Homo sapiens: one gene and its partners. The protein of the gene in region 1 purifies or fractionates together with the protein of each later gene. This does not show direct contact. Each region holds a gene or a part of one and is shown on either strand. Other genes may lie near its edges.

Region 1 (3,500 bases):
TCAAGGAAACTGAAAATACAATTACCACATTATCCAGCAATTCCACTTCTGGGTATACACCCACAAGAATTGAAAGCAGAAAGTCAAACAGATATTTGTATATCCATGTTCACAGCAGCATTAATCACAATAGTCAAAAAGTGGAAGCAAACTAAATATCCATCAATGGACGAATAAACAAAATGTGATACATACATAAAATATTATTCAGCCTTAAAAAGGAAGGAAATTCTGACAGTACAATGTGAATGAACTCTGAAGACTATTTATGCTTAGGGAAATCGCCAGTCACAAAGGGCAAACATTATATGATTTCATGTATATAAGGTACCTAGAGTAGTCAAATTCATAAAGACAGAAAGCAGAATGGTGGTTACCAAGGGATGGAGAAAGACAGCAACAGGAAGTTACTGCTTAATGGGTATGGAGTTTCAGTTTAGAAAGATGAAAAAGTTCTGGAGATGAAGGGTGGTGATGGCTGGACAACAAAGTTAATTTATTTGATGCCACAGAACTGTGCACTCAAAAATGGTTAAAACAGTAAATTTCATGTTATATATATTTCACTAAAGACACTGTAGTATACAATTTAAATCACCTTATACCCATCTACTCAAAAGCCACAAGTAACTAAAATCCTCATGAAGCTCTTACAAATCCTCTTTAAAAGTAGATATAGGGCCAGGCGCGGTGGCTCACGCCTGTAATCCCAGCACTTTGGGAGGCTGAGGTGGGCGGATCACAAGGTCAGGAGATCAAGACCATCCTGGCTCCCACGGTGAAACCGTCTCTACTAAAAATGCAAAAAAATTAGCTGGGCATGGTGGTGGGTACCTGTAGTCCCAGCTACTCAGGAGGCTGAGGCAGGAGAATGGTGTGAACCAGGGAGGTGGAGCTTCCAGTGAGCCGAGATCGCACCACTGCACCTCCAGCCTGGGCAACACAGCAAGACTCCATTTCAAAAAAAAAAACAAAACCAAAAAAAACAAAAAACAAGTAAATATTGGCCAGGCACGGTGGCTCACGCCAGTCATCCCAGCACTTTGGGAGGATGAGGTGGGTGGATCACGAGGTAGGAGTTCAAGAACAGCCTGACCAACATGGTGAAACCCCATCTCTACTAAAAATACAAAAATTAGCTGGCCATGGTGGCATGCCTGTAATCCCAGCTACTCAAGGCAGGAGAATCGCTTGAACCTGGGAGGCGGAGGTTGCAGTGAGCCGAGATCGCGCAACTGCACTCCAGCCTGGGTGACAGAGCAAGACTCTGTCTCAAAAAAAAAAAAAAGTAAATACTAAAAAGCAAACAAACATTCAAACTCTTAGAAAACTGAAAATTAGCCGGGCGCAGTGGCTCACACCTGTAATCCCAGCACTCTGGGAGGCAGAGGTGGGCGGATCACAAGGTCGGCAGTTCCAGACCAGCCTGACCAACATGGTGAAACCTCACTCTACTAAAAATACAGAAATTAGCCAGGCGTGGTGGTGGGTGCCTGTAATCCCAGCTACTAGGGAGGCTGAGGCAGGAGAATCGCTTGAACCCAGGAGGCAGAGGTTGCAGTGAGCCAAGACTGCACCACTGCACTCCAGCCTAGGCGACAGAGTGAGACTCCGTCTCAAAAAAAAAAAAAAAAAAAAAAGAAAACTGAAAAGTAGCACTTACGCAGCATACAAATGATGAACTATTACCAATCCCTCAGCACATTTTGTCATCTACTGGAAAAAAAAAATCCACGATTTGTAAGTTTTATTCAAATTGATTTTAACAAGAATAAAAATCAATAATGTAAACTAAAGCCCAAATTAGGTATCACTACACATCAACTACAATAAAGTTTTTGTTTTTGTTTTTGTTTTAAAAAAGACAATAACAGTGCTGGCAAGTATTCCAGAAACTAGAGTATTTACATAGTGTTAGTGAGAGTGCTAAATAGCACAGCCAGTTTAGTAGTTTCTTACAAACCTAAGTTCCTGTATACCACATTCTCGGCCATGGAACAAGCCTCAATAAACTGAAAAGAACTGAAATTATGCAAAGTATGTTCTCCAATCACAATAAAATTAAATTAGAAACTCTCAAAAAGTATCTTAAAAACCCCAAAATTGTTTTTGGAATCTAAGCAACACACTTCTAAATGAGTCAGGAGTCAAAAGACAAAATCAGGCTGGACAAGGTGGCTCACGCGTGTAATCCCAGCTCTTTGGGAGTCGGAGGTGGGAGGATCACTTGAGGCCAAGAGTTCAAGACCAGCCTGGTGAGTTTTGAACTCCTGGTGAGACCCCGTCTCTACAAAAACTAAAAAAACTAGCCGGGCATGGTGATATGCACCTGTAGTCCCAGCTACTAAGGGAGGCTGAGGTAAGAGGATTACAGGAGCCCAGGAAGTCAAGGCTGCAGTTTGTGACACTGCACTTCAGCCTTGGTGAGAGTGAAACAACGTCTCAAAAAAAGAAAAAAGAAACCAAACAGGAAATGTGTACTGAATGAAAATGAAAACATGTAATTTCAAAATTTGTGGGATACAGCTGAAGTAGTGCTCAGACAAAACTTACAGCACTAAATGCCAGAAAAAACACAAAGTCTCACATCAATGACATAAGCTTCCACTCTAAGAAGGTAAAGAGGAGCAAATTAAATCCAAAGTTTGTAGAGGTCGGGCGCGGTAGCTCATGCCTGTAATCCCAGCACTTTGGGAGGCAGAGTCGGGCGGATAATGAGGTCAGGAGTTCGATACCAGCCTGACCAACATGGTGAAACCCCGTCTCTACCAAAAATACAAAAATGAGCTGGGCATGGTGGTGCATGCCTGTAATCCCAGCTACTGGGGAGGCTGAGGCAGGAGAATGGCTTGAACCCTGGGGACAGAGGTTGCAGTGAGCCGAGATTGTGCCACTGCATTCCAGCCTGGGTGACAGAGCAAGGCTCCATCTCAAAAAAAAAAAAAAAAAAAAAAAAAAAGTTTGTAGAAGAAAAGATATGAAAAAGATGAGAGCAGAAAGCAATAAAAAGAAAACAGAAAAATGTTAGAGAAAAATCAATGAAACCAGAGCCTGGTTCTTTAAGAGCAGTAAAACTGTCCAGGTGCAATGGCTCACACCTATAATCCCAGCACTTTGGGAAGCCAAGGCAGGCAGATCATCTGAGCTTAGAAGTTCAATGCCACCCTGGGCAACGTGGTGAAACCCCATATCTACCAAAAATACAAAAAATTAGCCGGGTGTGGTTGGCATGTGCCTGTGGTCCCAGCTACTCAGGAGGCTGAGGCTTGTGTCCAGGAGGCAAAGGCTGCAGCGAGCTGAGATCATGCCATTGCACTCCAGCCTGGGAGACAGAGCAAGACCCTGCCTCAAAAAAAAAAAAAAAAAAAAAAAAAAAAAAAAAAAAAAGCACAGATCAGTAAAACTGACAATCCTCTAGCCAAACTAATGGGAACAAAAGAGAAAAGAAACAAATTATCAAAAAGGTAACCAGAGACATAACTACAGATCCTGAAGACATC
Region 2 (3,500 bases), on another chromosome or scaffold:
TGTAAAAATTTTCTAATTACCTCAATTAGATTAGTATTGATTGCACTAAAGAGAATCATGTAATGGGCCTTCAATAGAAAAAACAAAATCGTGCATATTGGCTTCCAATGCCAAATCGATAGAGAGGAAGGTGGTTTTAAGAGTGGAACAGAGTCAACCAGGCCTGCCCAGCTCTCCTGAAGGCTTGCCCACCCACCGCGTGTGGTCTTAGTTGGCATCATGCATGTGTGAGGTCTTTGTGAATTTCACATCACAGTTAGCATGTGTGTGTGGCACCATCTTTACATCTGGCGAGGCACGTAATGGTGGCACACACAATGTCCCCTAGGAATGATGCTAGGGACACCAATGACAGCTTCCCATTCCCCGCAGGTATCTCTGCTGTAGTCATCAGTTGCTTAGCAAAGAACATGATCACTGCTTGATTATAATAATATTAACAGATTACAAAGTGAGTTCCTCAACATCCTTGTGAGAAACGATTAATCATGTCCTATTTTTCAGAGGAAAGTGAGGCTTACAGAAGGGACATGCTTTATCCAAGGCCCATAGAGCTAGTAACTGATTCACGTGGGGGGGCTTCAGAGCCCACCTCCTCGTCATGAGATGAAGTGGACTCTCTGACAGGCTTCATGCCAGGGGCTGGCCCCACTCTGCTGACAGAGGCTGGAGGTACCCCTGGGCCTCCCCAGGCTGATCCCTTCAGTCCAGTTTCTCAACCATGGTGCTACTGGCATCCTTGCTTGTGGGGGCTCCCTGAGTACTGGAGGATGTTTAGTGGCATCCCTGGCCACTAAACTTCCATCTACTAGTTGTTGGTAGCAACCCCCTTCCTAGGTCCTGACAATCAATATTTCCAGATATTGTAAATGTCCCTGGAGGGCAAAATTGCCCCAGTTGAGTCCAAACAAAATCCCTACAGCTGTGATTAAGAATCTGAGGTCACTGTCTAGGCCTGAAGGAAGAAAAGTCAAAGGTGAATGTGTGCCCATGCCTATGTGTGTGTGCACACATGTATATACATATGTATTTCTGGGTATTCTTAGGTACTGCTGGCTCAACTGCGAGCCTCAGGTCCCTTCCTGGCAGACAGAACTGAGTCCCTCTTGGCAGGACGGGGCTCAGGCTGCCAAGGAAGGGGAATTTTCACCCTGATGTCAGGAAATGATCAACAAGGAGAGCAGAAGAGGTGGCTTATTCACTGTACCTTGGCCTGGCAGTTCCCATCGGGAGACTTACTCCCTGGCAACGTGAAAACCAATAGATGTGTGGACTGCCCTCGCAGGTCACTCACAGCCTGGGTACCTAGCAGGGCCTATGAGGATGCTGATGTCTTTCCCTCCTGATGCCTGAGCTGCAGGTTTTAATGTAAAAGGAGTTTTCATAGATATTTTCATTTAATCTTTTCCTAAAATTACGTGGAGAAGGTGTCTTGGCCTATTTGACAAAGAAAGAACTGCAGACTGGATTAAGAATTGAGTCTGAGGACTTGTCAACTGCTCAGCCTGAGCAGGAACTTGGGCATTCTGATTCCCAGCCTGGGGACAGTGTGGAATGGTGAGCAAAGCACATAGGCTCTGGGGTCAGGGCCGATCTGGAATCTTGACTTAGCCTGCTTACTGGCTGAGGGACCACAGGCAACATGCTCAACTTTCTTCCGCTTTAGTATTTATATGAAAAATCAGAAAATGCCTACAACTCACAAGGTTACATGATACCATGGGTAAAGTACATACAAATGTTAATTCTCTTGACCTGTCTTCAAAGCCCCATGGCTGTTTTTCTTTTTTTTCAGATGGAGTCTCGCTCTGTTGCCCAGGCTGGAGTGTAGTGGTGTGATCTCATCTCACTGCAACCTGTGCCTCCCGGGTTCAAGCGATTCTCCTGCCTTGGCCTCCCGAGTAGCTGGGACTACAGGTGCGTGCCACCATGCCCAGTTAATTTTTTGTATTTTTAGTAGACACGGGGTTTCACCATGCTGGCCAGGCTGGTCTCGAACTCCCGACCTCGAGATCCATCCGCCTCAGCCTCCCAAAGTGCTGGGATTACAGGCGTGAGCCACTGTGCCCGGCCAGCTCCACGGCTGTTTTTCTAGCATGTAATAGTGTGTGACATAGAAAAGACACCAAATGCAATGGCTGTTGGGTGAGTGATGCAGCTGACAGGGTCCTTGTGCTCAAGAGCCCTCTTTTACTGCACTGTCTGTAGGCTCCAATGTGGTGCCTGCCCAGGCATGCTGTATGAATGTACGGATGAAGTGGATGGATATTCGTACGTACCCACCACTCCTGGTCCTCTTCCCCTGTGACGATAATCACTTCTCCCTCGATGAATGTGAGCTCGTCATCGTTGTCTGCCTGGCAGTCATAAATGGTCTTCACTCGCCTCACTTTATTTTTCCCCTTAAAGAAAGAAACTGGGTTTTAATTGAAAGAATGGACTGAATGGAAAAAAAGAGCAGCGGTTCTTTGTAAAATGGTTGACCTTGGCCAGTAACTTAACCTCGCTGAGCCTTGATTTCCTCACCCTTGAAGGGCGGGAAGAAGAGTGTCTGTCAGGCACCCAGCATACTGTGTACTCTTAACTACAGGCCCTTCCTCTCCCCCCATCATCAGGGTGGCCCTGCATTGGTGATTGGGCATCATCAAGTTATTTTCACCAGAAAGCAAACACTATGGGTAGGGATCAAAATTGAGCTTCACCAAAAACCATCAAGCACTCTGTACGCACCCCCAACCCACATCAGCTTGCAGAATGACAGCAGAGTCTAAAAATGTTTTTAGGAAACATGATGTAAAGCAAAATCTGCAGCTTCTGCATAATGAATGTGCAGCATAAACAAATTTGTCAGTCCCCTCATGCAAAACAGCAAGTCAGTACATGCTGGTTAAACACAGCAGGATCGGCCTGGGGCTCGGAGAAGTCTATGCAGTTCCTAAAACAGTTTTAATTTTTGATTAGTTTTGATTTGAGCATTTATTTGTTGAACTTCCAGTTCTTTGCAAATAGAAAAGTGAAAATAGAGGTATCACCTTCTAAATGATGGGTTTTTGTTTTGCACCTGGCTAATTGGCAATTTTAAAAAAAGCAAGCTGTCTCTTTAAATGTTTTGGGTGGAGTGCCTCTTCCTCTCTGTCCCCTGGTTTCTCCTTTAATCACCCTGATAGTTCCAGCTGCTTTCCGAGCTCCCTTCTGGGCCGTGCGGGTGGGTTGGAGAAGCCTGGCAGAACTGTGGCAGTGACTGCGTGAGCAACTGAGAGGCCTGTAGTGTGTTAATTTATAACACAGAGATTAAATGACATAATAAAACTATATAGTGTGTAGCATGAAATGAAAATTTTGCATCAGTGGTGCTTGGGAGTCATGGGAGAGTTCCCTTTTGAATAGCAGAAGTATCCACCATCAGACACGGCAGCCTCCAACCTACAGGAAGATGGGTTTTATTTTTCTTAATTTAAGTATTGATATGACACACTTTTACTGCAACATTTAAATTTTTT
Region 3 (3,500 bases), on another chromosome or scaffold:
ACTGGTTAGTTACTTGTATTAATCTCTAAAGCTTTACCCCAGGAAACATGATTTCTCTTTTTTTTTTTTTTATTTGGAGACAGGGTCTTGCTACGTGGCCAGGCTGGAATGCAGTGGTGCAATCCATAGCTCAATGCAGCCACAAATTTCTGTGGTAAAGCAATCCTCCCGCATCAGCCACCACACCAGGCTAAGTTTTCTCATTTTTGTAGAGACTGGGGTCTTGCTATTTTGCCCAGGCCCAGAAACTTGATTTCAAATACAATACTAAAAACAGTCCCGGCCTCTCCGCCACCTCCTCTGAGGACCCCCGGTCACCACACACAAAGGCTGGAGACAGGCCCGCAGGACACGCACTCCATCATCGATGCCTCCTTGGTCTCCAGGATGTGGTCCGTCAGGATCCAGGGCATCGACATCTCAATGGGGAACTGGATCCTCCTGCCCATGGTCAGCTCCAGGAAGAACTCTCGGAACCACAGCTGCGAAAGGTCACAGCACTGCTGCAGCGTTTCTGGGAGGGTTCAAACAACTCCATGTTATCTCCCGCAAGCAAAAAAAAACCTTTAGCAGAGATGACACAAGGGCTGTGTGCTGGGTGCCTGCTCCTCCTCGCTCAGCCCCAAGCCATGCAGCATGGACATGAGTGGGGAGGGGTCACCGGGGCCTTGCACTAGGGACAGGACCAGCTGGGCATAGCTGCAGGTAAAGCCACCTCATCAACCCTGTGAGCCCTTCAGTGGGATCCAGGGGGAAAGTGTCTTTTTTTTTTTTTTGAGACAGAGTCTATCTCACTCTGTCACCCAGGCTGGAGGTGAGTGGCGCGATCATAGCTTACTGCAGCCTTCAACTCCTGGGCTCAAGCGATCCTCCTGCCTCAGCCTCCCAAGTAGCTGAGAACACAGGCACGTGCCACCAACTGATTTTGTATTTTTTATAGAGATGGGGGTCTCGCCATGTTGCCCAGGCTGGTCTCAAACTCCCGAATTCAAGTGATTCTCCTGCCTTGGCTTCCCAAAGTGTTAGGATTAACAGGTATGAGCCACTGTGTCTTACCTAAAAATGTTCTTCTCAAAAGGAGACATAAAAACAGGACTTCTGGCTGGGCACAGTGGCTCACGCCTGTAATCCTAGCACTTTGGGAGGCCGAGGCGGGTGGATCACAAGGTCAGGAGTTTGAGACCAGCCTGGCCAACATGGTAAAACCCCATCTCTACTAAAAATACAAAAATTAGCCAGGCGCAGTGGTGAGCACCTATAATCCCAGCTACTTGGGAGGCTGAGGGAGGAGAATCTCTTGAACCTGGGAGGCGGAGCTTGCAGTGAGCTGAGATCGCCCCACTGTACTCTAGCCTGGGTGACAGAGCAAGACTTCGTCTCAACAAAAAACAAAACAAAAAAACAGGACTTCTTCACTTTCACTTAGGATAAAAACCAATGTCCAGGCTGCAGCATTAGAGGCACACTCAGGGAGGTCTGTCTAACGCAAAAATGAGACAGATTAAAAGAGCCCACACTCGAACTCCATCCTTTCATGGAGTTAACAGCAAAAGTGGTACTATTTCCTCCAATACCTCGCAGCACCCCAGCCAAGACAGCAGGGATCCTGTTCTGAGCAAGAGGTGGACAACGGAGGACTTGATGAGAACACGGGACAGACACACGGAGGGCAGAGAGCGCACCCACCGGTGGCCGGTCAAGGTGGCCGGGTGTCACCCAGGATGGGCTTGCCTGGCACAGGGCACCCGCCACCTTCCCCCCACGTCATGGTCTGCAAGGGCCATTTCTAGTATTTATCAATGCCTGTGTCTCAACTCAGGCACCAGATTACATTCGCCTGTTTCCAACCCCGCATGGGTTGAAAAGATTTTCTGTTCATGTCTCAGGGCCAGCCCGGGCTCCTCAGTTTATACCCTTGTAGGGACCACGCCCTGTGGAGCGAGCTCAGGCCAGGGACGTACAGCCACCGCCACAGAGGGCAGGACGAGTCACCGTCTGGGTGCACCAAGGGACGGGGTAGGGGGTGGTCAGGCGGGCGGAAGCATTCTAGACGGTGTTAGTGGTGTTAGGACATGCCAGGCCGGATGCTGCTCAGCAGTATCTCTTACCACTGAAATTTATCAAGTGAGTGTAGAAGAATGACTCTCGATGAAATTTTTCTATGTCCAATATGGTGGGCCCCTCAAGGCTACTTCTCAAGGTTTTCTTGGAACCACTTTTGTCTGCAATGAGGGACTCTAGCATGGTTCTCACCATGTAAAGCTGGATTATCCAAGGAAACATTTGTGGGGGAGAAAATATACATGGTACATTAGTTATGCCAAACTCAAAAAGCCCATGAGAGAAGGACTGCTCCGCTACGCCCTGGTCGGGAGGGCCCCGCACCAGCTCCCCGAGGGGTCCGGGTGCCTGTCTACGCGGCCACGTTGCTGCTGCTTTGGGGAAAGAACAACTTGTAGCGGAGCAGTTCGCCTCCGTGCCATAAACGTCAAGAGAAACAAATGATGTCTTACCACCAAAGGTTAAAAGGGGTAGGTAGGTGCACGACTGCCTCAGAAACGTGTTAACCGCATGCAAGAGCCTCTCCATGCCCAGAGACTTGAGCTGCCTGAGCAGCTCGGCAGAGCCCAAGGACTCGGCCATGGTGCGCACCAGGTAGAGCTAGACACGGACAGACAGGAGGGAGAGGCAGGAGAGAGACGTTAGTCACTCGACACACACACCCCAGGCAGGGACACGGGACGCACGCAGAGGGAGGCAGGGAGGGTGGCTGGCACCACGCACAGGCCGAGGGCCGTCCCCCTGACCCTCCTGCAGAGCCAGCAGCGTGCATTGCTGGTGACTTTCCAGAAGAGTGGCAGAAGAGATTAAAAGCCTCCGGCAGAGATGAGGGAGAAGACCAGCCCCAGGACGGAGGACAGACGCAGCGGTGTGGATTAAACCGGGTGTGAAAGTCGTGAGAAGCACCTCGGGGAGGCCTGAACACACCAGGAGAGAGGACAGTGGGCAGCTTAGGACCATGACACACGCAAGCAGCACCTCACAGTTTCCCACGCCCCATCTACAGTCATTTGCAGACCCAACGTAAAAATTATACAGACATTCAAACACCCATCAAGAAACACAGAATGAATACAGACACGTGGACTTGTGCCCACATTTTTGGGATGGGAGTTGAAATGGAGTCAGACTCCTTTTTAGTGCACATGACACATCTGACAATCAAGGCACGTCTCCTCACGCTCCCAACTCACTTGGGTGGGAAACAGAGGAGCAGCAGAAACCACAGGCGCCACTTTCTCTGCCTGAGCAGGCAGCGAGGACCTCATTTAACCCGGGCCTCACCAGCCCCACCCGCTCACAGCTCAGGGTGGGTCCCCCCAGGGAGAGGGTGCAGGCGGGGCTCAAGGGACGAGAACCTGAGTGCTGGAGGGTCCCACGGCGCGGCGTGGTACTTTTATGTCGAAGCCGCTCTTGGGGTCCTTCTCGCCCCGCAAGGC
Region 4 (3,500 bases), on another chromosome or scaffold:
AATAGACAACGTGCAGAATAGATAAATCGAGAAACAGCAGTGTAAGCATATCATTTAGAGATCTGGAGGCAGCTACTAGAAGAAACAGTGAGTTAAAAGTGGCAGCCTCTAGGGGAGGGTGGGTGCTGGATGGTTGTTTTTCATTATAAGGCTTTCAATACTATTTGATTTTTTAAAACATTTGTATATATCGTTTTGATCAAAATTTAATAATTTGCTTTAGAAGACAACCACCCAAAGTCTCCTTGTTAGCAGTTCAGACACCTGGCCGGTACCCAGCACTGACTGGCAAGGTGGTCTTTGTTGTTTCAGTCCCCTGCTCCTGTCCTCCGGGACCAGAGGCCCTATCACCTACAGCTTCTCTCCACACAGGGGACCTGCAGTCAGAGCCGAGAAATCAAGTCAGCCTCGACTTGGGCCACTGGAGAAGGCCTATCCTCCTCGTTGTTTATGAGTAGACTGAGTAGACAGAGAAAAAGATCTTGGTGGGGGCTAAAGGACTTTCCCCTTCGTTTGCCATTTTGCCCAGCTGCTTCCTGTGTTGTTAAGGTTGAGGTGGCCTTTGTGGTGACACCAAACCAGGCTACCAGCAGCTCAGGGGAACGGCCTCATGCTCTCAGGAGGGGAAGTCATGCCACCAAGGTGGCTTGCTGATTTGCTCCTGCTGGGGCCCTGGGGCTGTCATATGAGGAACACCAACATGACGCGTATGTGGGGAGAGGAGCTGCCTCTCAGATGCACCTGCTAAAACTCACAAGGGAAGCCATGCATCTGCTACGGAAACAAAGAGGAGGGCTTCAGGTCTGGCCACCAGATCGGAGCACGTGGAACTCAGCTCCATCGATGTGAAACCACAACTCGAACATGGCTCAGTATGAAGACAAAGGCCCCCAAATCACATTTTCACTCACTCTAAAAGGGCAAATTTCTCTGTCTGTAAAATGTGGAGGTTAGCCTTGGTTCTCTCTCAACCATGATGTCCAAACCTGCCTTGTGAAGGTTATTGCGGGTAACTTGTGCTAATAATAGCTTAAGCACTGAGGTTTGCAAACAAGGTACATTTTATTGTATGTGAGGCGAGGGTTCAAGATCTCTGTGTGATATTATTGCTTGCATGTTCATCTCTTCCCTTGAGTGGCAGGAATGGAGCAGAGTTGGGGGGTTGGCTGTGGGGGCTGATGTGTTCAGCATGTCAACATTGTCCATTTTGTGTACTAAAAAAACCACAACAGCAACCAGTTAAGAATCACTGGATTTGGGCCTCTCTCAGGACCCTCCCAACACTAAAGCAAATGACCATGACTACAGTTGAGACATTCCATCCAAAGGGCTTCCTTAAAGACATGTGTTAAGGATCATGCAGACCATTCTCTGTGGCCAAGGTATACAGGGCATAATAAACCTGTCCAAGGATACTCTTCCTTTGTGCCTTTGCTCAAACTGTCTCCACTCCCTTATGGACTGTCTTCTTCCCTTCTCAAATCTTACCGATCTATCATGGCCCACACGAAGACATGCCTTTTCCACAAAGGTCTGACCAGCCAAGCCCCTTAATGACCTTTATTTCTCTCACTCCCTTAGCACTCACAGTCTAGAGTCCACAGTTTTTAACTGCACGACAAACTGCTTTATATTTCACTAATTCTTTGGATTGCTAAGAATGCCAAGGATAGTCATCTTATCTGAGTTTGACCCATAGCAACCAGCACAGAGATAGGCACACACCAGGAATTACTTGCTTAATTAATACTTCATGAATGATTTGTTGACTGCATGAGCCAATGACCAAAATTCTTAACTTCTGGTTTAAAAAAATTAACAAGAAAGTTAAAATATCATGCTTCTCTAAGGTCCCATATCCAAGGCTGCCTTGTCAATATAAGAATCTGAGGAGAGTTCTTTAGAAAATCCTTCTGTCGTATAGTTTCCACTTCAAACCCTAAGAAGCAGGTCCTCATTTCTCTTTCCCATATGGAAGTATAACAGACTTGGAGATAGGGGGCTGACCTCTAGTTCTGAATTCTTATCTTGCCATTCATATCTTGCCAAAACAAATCTTAAAGCATCATATTTTAAAAGCACAAATCAAAAATAGTTCTCGGATATTCCTTAAGAGTTACTGCATGTCTTCTCTGAGGGTCAGCCCTGCAAATTCTCTTTGATCTCAGCCAGGCCTTCAGTGAAGTTAGACAATTCTCTCATTCTTCCCCAGTTTATTTCTTATTCCACCCACATAGGCAACTGTTCCAAACCCTGAAGTCTCCTGAAGTTTCCTAACCAGTCCATCACCTTTATTTCCTGCAGAGGACCTCACCTCCTGCCTTACTTAGAAAACAGAGAACATGGACAGACTAAACACACCTCTGTTTTACCTAGAGATTAAAGCCTAAGAACCATTGCTCTACAATGACCAAATAATGACGCAAACAGAATCAAAAGGTCTACTGATGAAGTCATCACTGGGTCTTTCTCAGGCATCTCGCAAGAAGGTCCTATTTACTTCCCTCTCTCACTGCCTGTATCTGAGTTGCCCAAAGTCTATCAAAATGCCACGCAACCAGAATGATCCCTGCAAGAAATTCTGCCTGAACTCAAGCTCTGCCTTCTCAAAACAATTTCTTTCAAGAATTTGCACCCTCTGTTGCCAGGGCCCAAGTATGGCTTAAATGGCTATTTTTTGAGGTACATCACACACAGCCCTTAGCATAATGCCCATGGCTAGAAAGCCAATATCTAAGCTCTTTGCATCCTGGGAGGCGTCCCATACCCACTGACTGAATTCTGAAGTGTCTTTGTACAGACAAGGCCATCCAGGGGCCTTGACAGAATCTGTGAATCACAAAGTGCCTTTAAGCTTCCCATTGGCTCAACAGTACAGAGAGGCCACAGATCCATCTTCTTAAAGTGACACACAATATATAATTAATAAATTGTTTCTTAAGGAATGGAGGGCATTTACCCAAAAGAGTCACACATTCAGGAGGCTCCTTCTCTATTTCCACGGCTTTTTTTTCTCAGACTGGGATTTACAGACATTACCTCATCCGCAGGCTTTCATGATGACAGGCAGGTAACAGTTGGGCAGGCTGCCTTCCATTGCTCAATTTTGAACGTCAGAGAGGTAGTGGCTGGTTTAAGGGCACACAGCAAGTCAGGGATCCTGTGTCCCATGCTCACTGTGCTGCTCTGTCTGCCCTGGAAGCAAAGCATGCCCTCAACATTTTTGGATGGTTGCAAAATGCTGAATTCTCACAGAGGAAGAGGCCCTTCCTTAACTCTACGTGTTGAAATGTGAGAATGGCCCTGGGCTTCTGCTTGGCTTGTTCCCTCCCACTTCTCCCTACCTACTCAGGTTCCACCCACCTCTCTTGTGCTACTTAAGAGCACTTCCCACCTGAAGCCTTTCACTTCATGCCCTATCACTCTTAACTTTCCCTTCCTTCGGCCGGTAAACTTGGGGCTGGGTTTACTGGTCACAGAGACCAACTTCCCTCAAAAAA

Evidence for each region. The genes of interacting proteins can lie anywhere in the genome.
Region 2: the proteins of ARHGAP12 (region 1) and ASAP1 purify together in Homo sapiens (co-immunoprecipitation; 3 studies listed by BioGRID and IntAct, with this or other methods). This does not show direct contact.
Region 3: the proteins of ARHGAP12 (region 1) and CYFIP1 purify together in Homo sapiens (affinity purification with mass spectrometry; 2 studies listed by BioGRID and IntAct, with this or other methods). This does not show direct contact.
Region 4: the proteins of ARHGAP12 (region 1) and CYFIP2 purify together in Homo sapiens (affinity purification with mass spectrometry; one large-scale study listed by BioGRID and IntAct). This does not show direct contact.

What each region holds. Positions count from the first base shown.
Region 1 is NC_000010.11:31,918,832-31,922,331, forward strand, and holds part of ARHGAP12 (rho GTPase-activating protein 12), read right to left. Parts: intron 1-3,500. UniProt on the Homo sapiens protein: GTPase activator for the Rho-type GTPases by converting them to an inactive GDP-bound state.
Region 2 is NC_000008.11:130,055,675-130,059,174, forward strand, and holds part of ASAP1 (arf-GAP with SH3 domain, ANK repeat and PH domain-containing protein 1), read right to left. Parts: intron 2,403-3,500; coding exon 2,280-2,402; intron 1-2,279. UniProt on the Homo sapiens protein: Possesses phosphatidylinositol 4,5-bisphosphate-dependent GTPase-activating protein activity for ARF1 (ADP ribosylation factor 1) and ARF5 and a lesser activity towards ARF6.
Region 3 is NC_000015.10:22,914,369-22,917,868, forward strand, and holds part of CYFIP1 (cytoplasmic FMR1-interacting protein 1), read right to left. Parts: coding exon 3,420-3,500; intron 2,946-3,419; exon of another isoform or gene 2,644-2,945; coding exon of another isoform or gene 2,263-2,643; coding exon 2,109-2,262; intron 515-2,108; coding exon 358-514; intron 1-357. UniProt on the Homo sapiens protein: Component of the CYFIP1-EIF4E-FMR1 complex which binds to the mRNA cap and mediates translational repression. In the CYFIP1-EIF4E-FMR1 complex this subunit is an adapter between EIF4E and FMR1.
Region 4 is NC_000005.10:157,269,123-157,272,622, reverse strand, and holds part of CYFIP2 (cytoplasmic FMR1-interacting protein 2), read right to left. Parts: intron 3,300-3,500; exon of another isoform or gene 3,040-3,299; intron 1-3,039. UniProt on the Homo sapiens protein: Involved in T-cell adhesion and p53/TP53-dependent induction of apoptosis. Does not bind RNA. As component of the WAVE1 complex, required for BDNF-NTRK2 endocytic trafficking and signaling from early endosomes.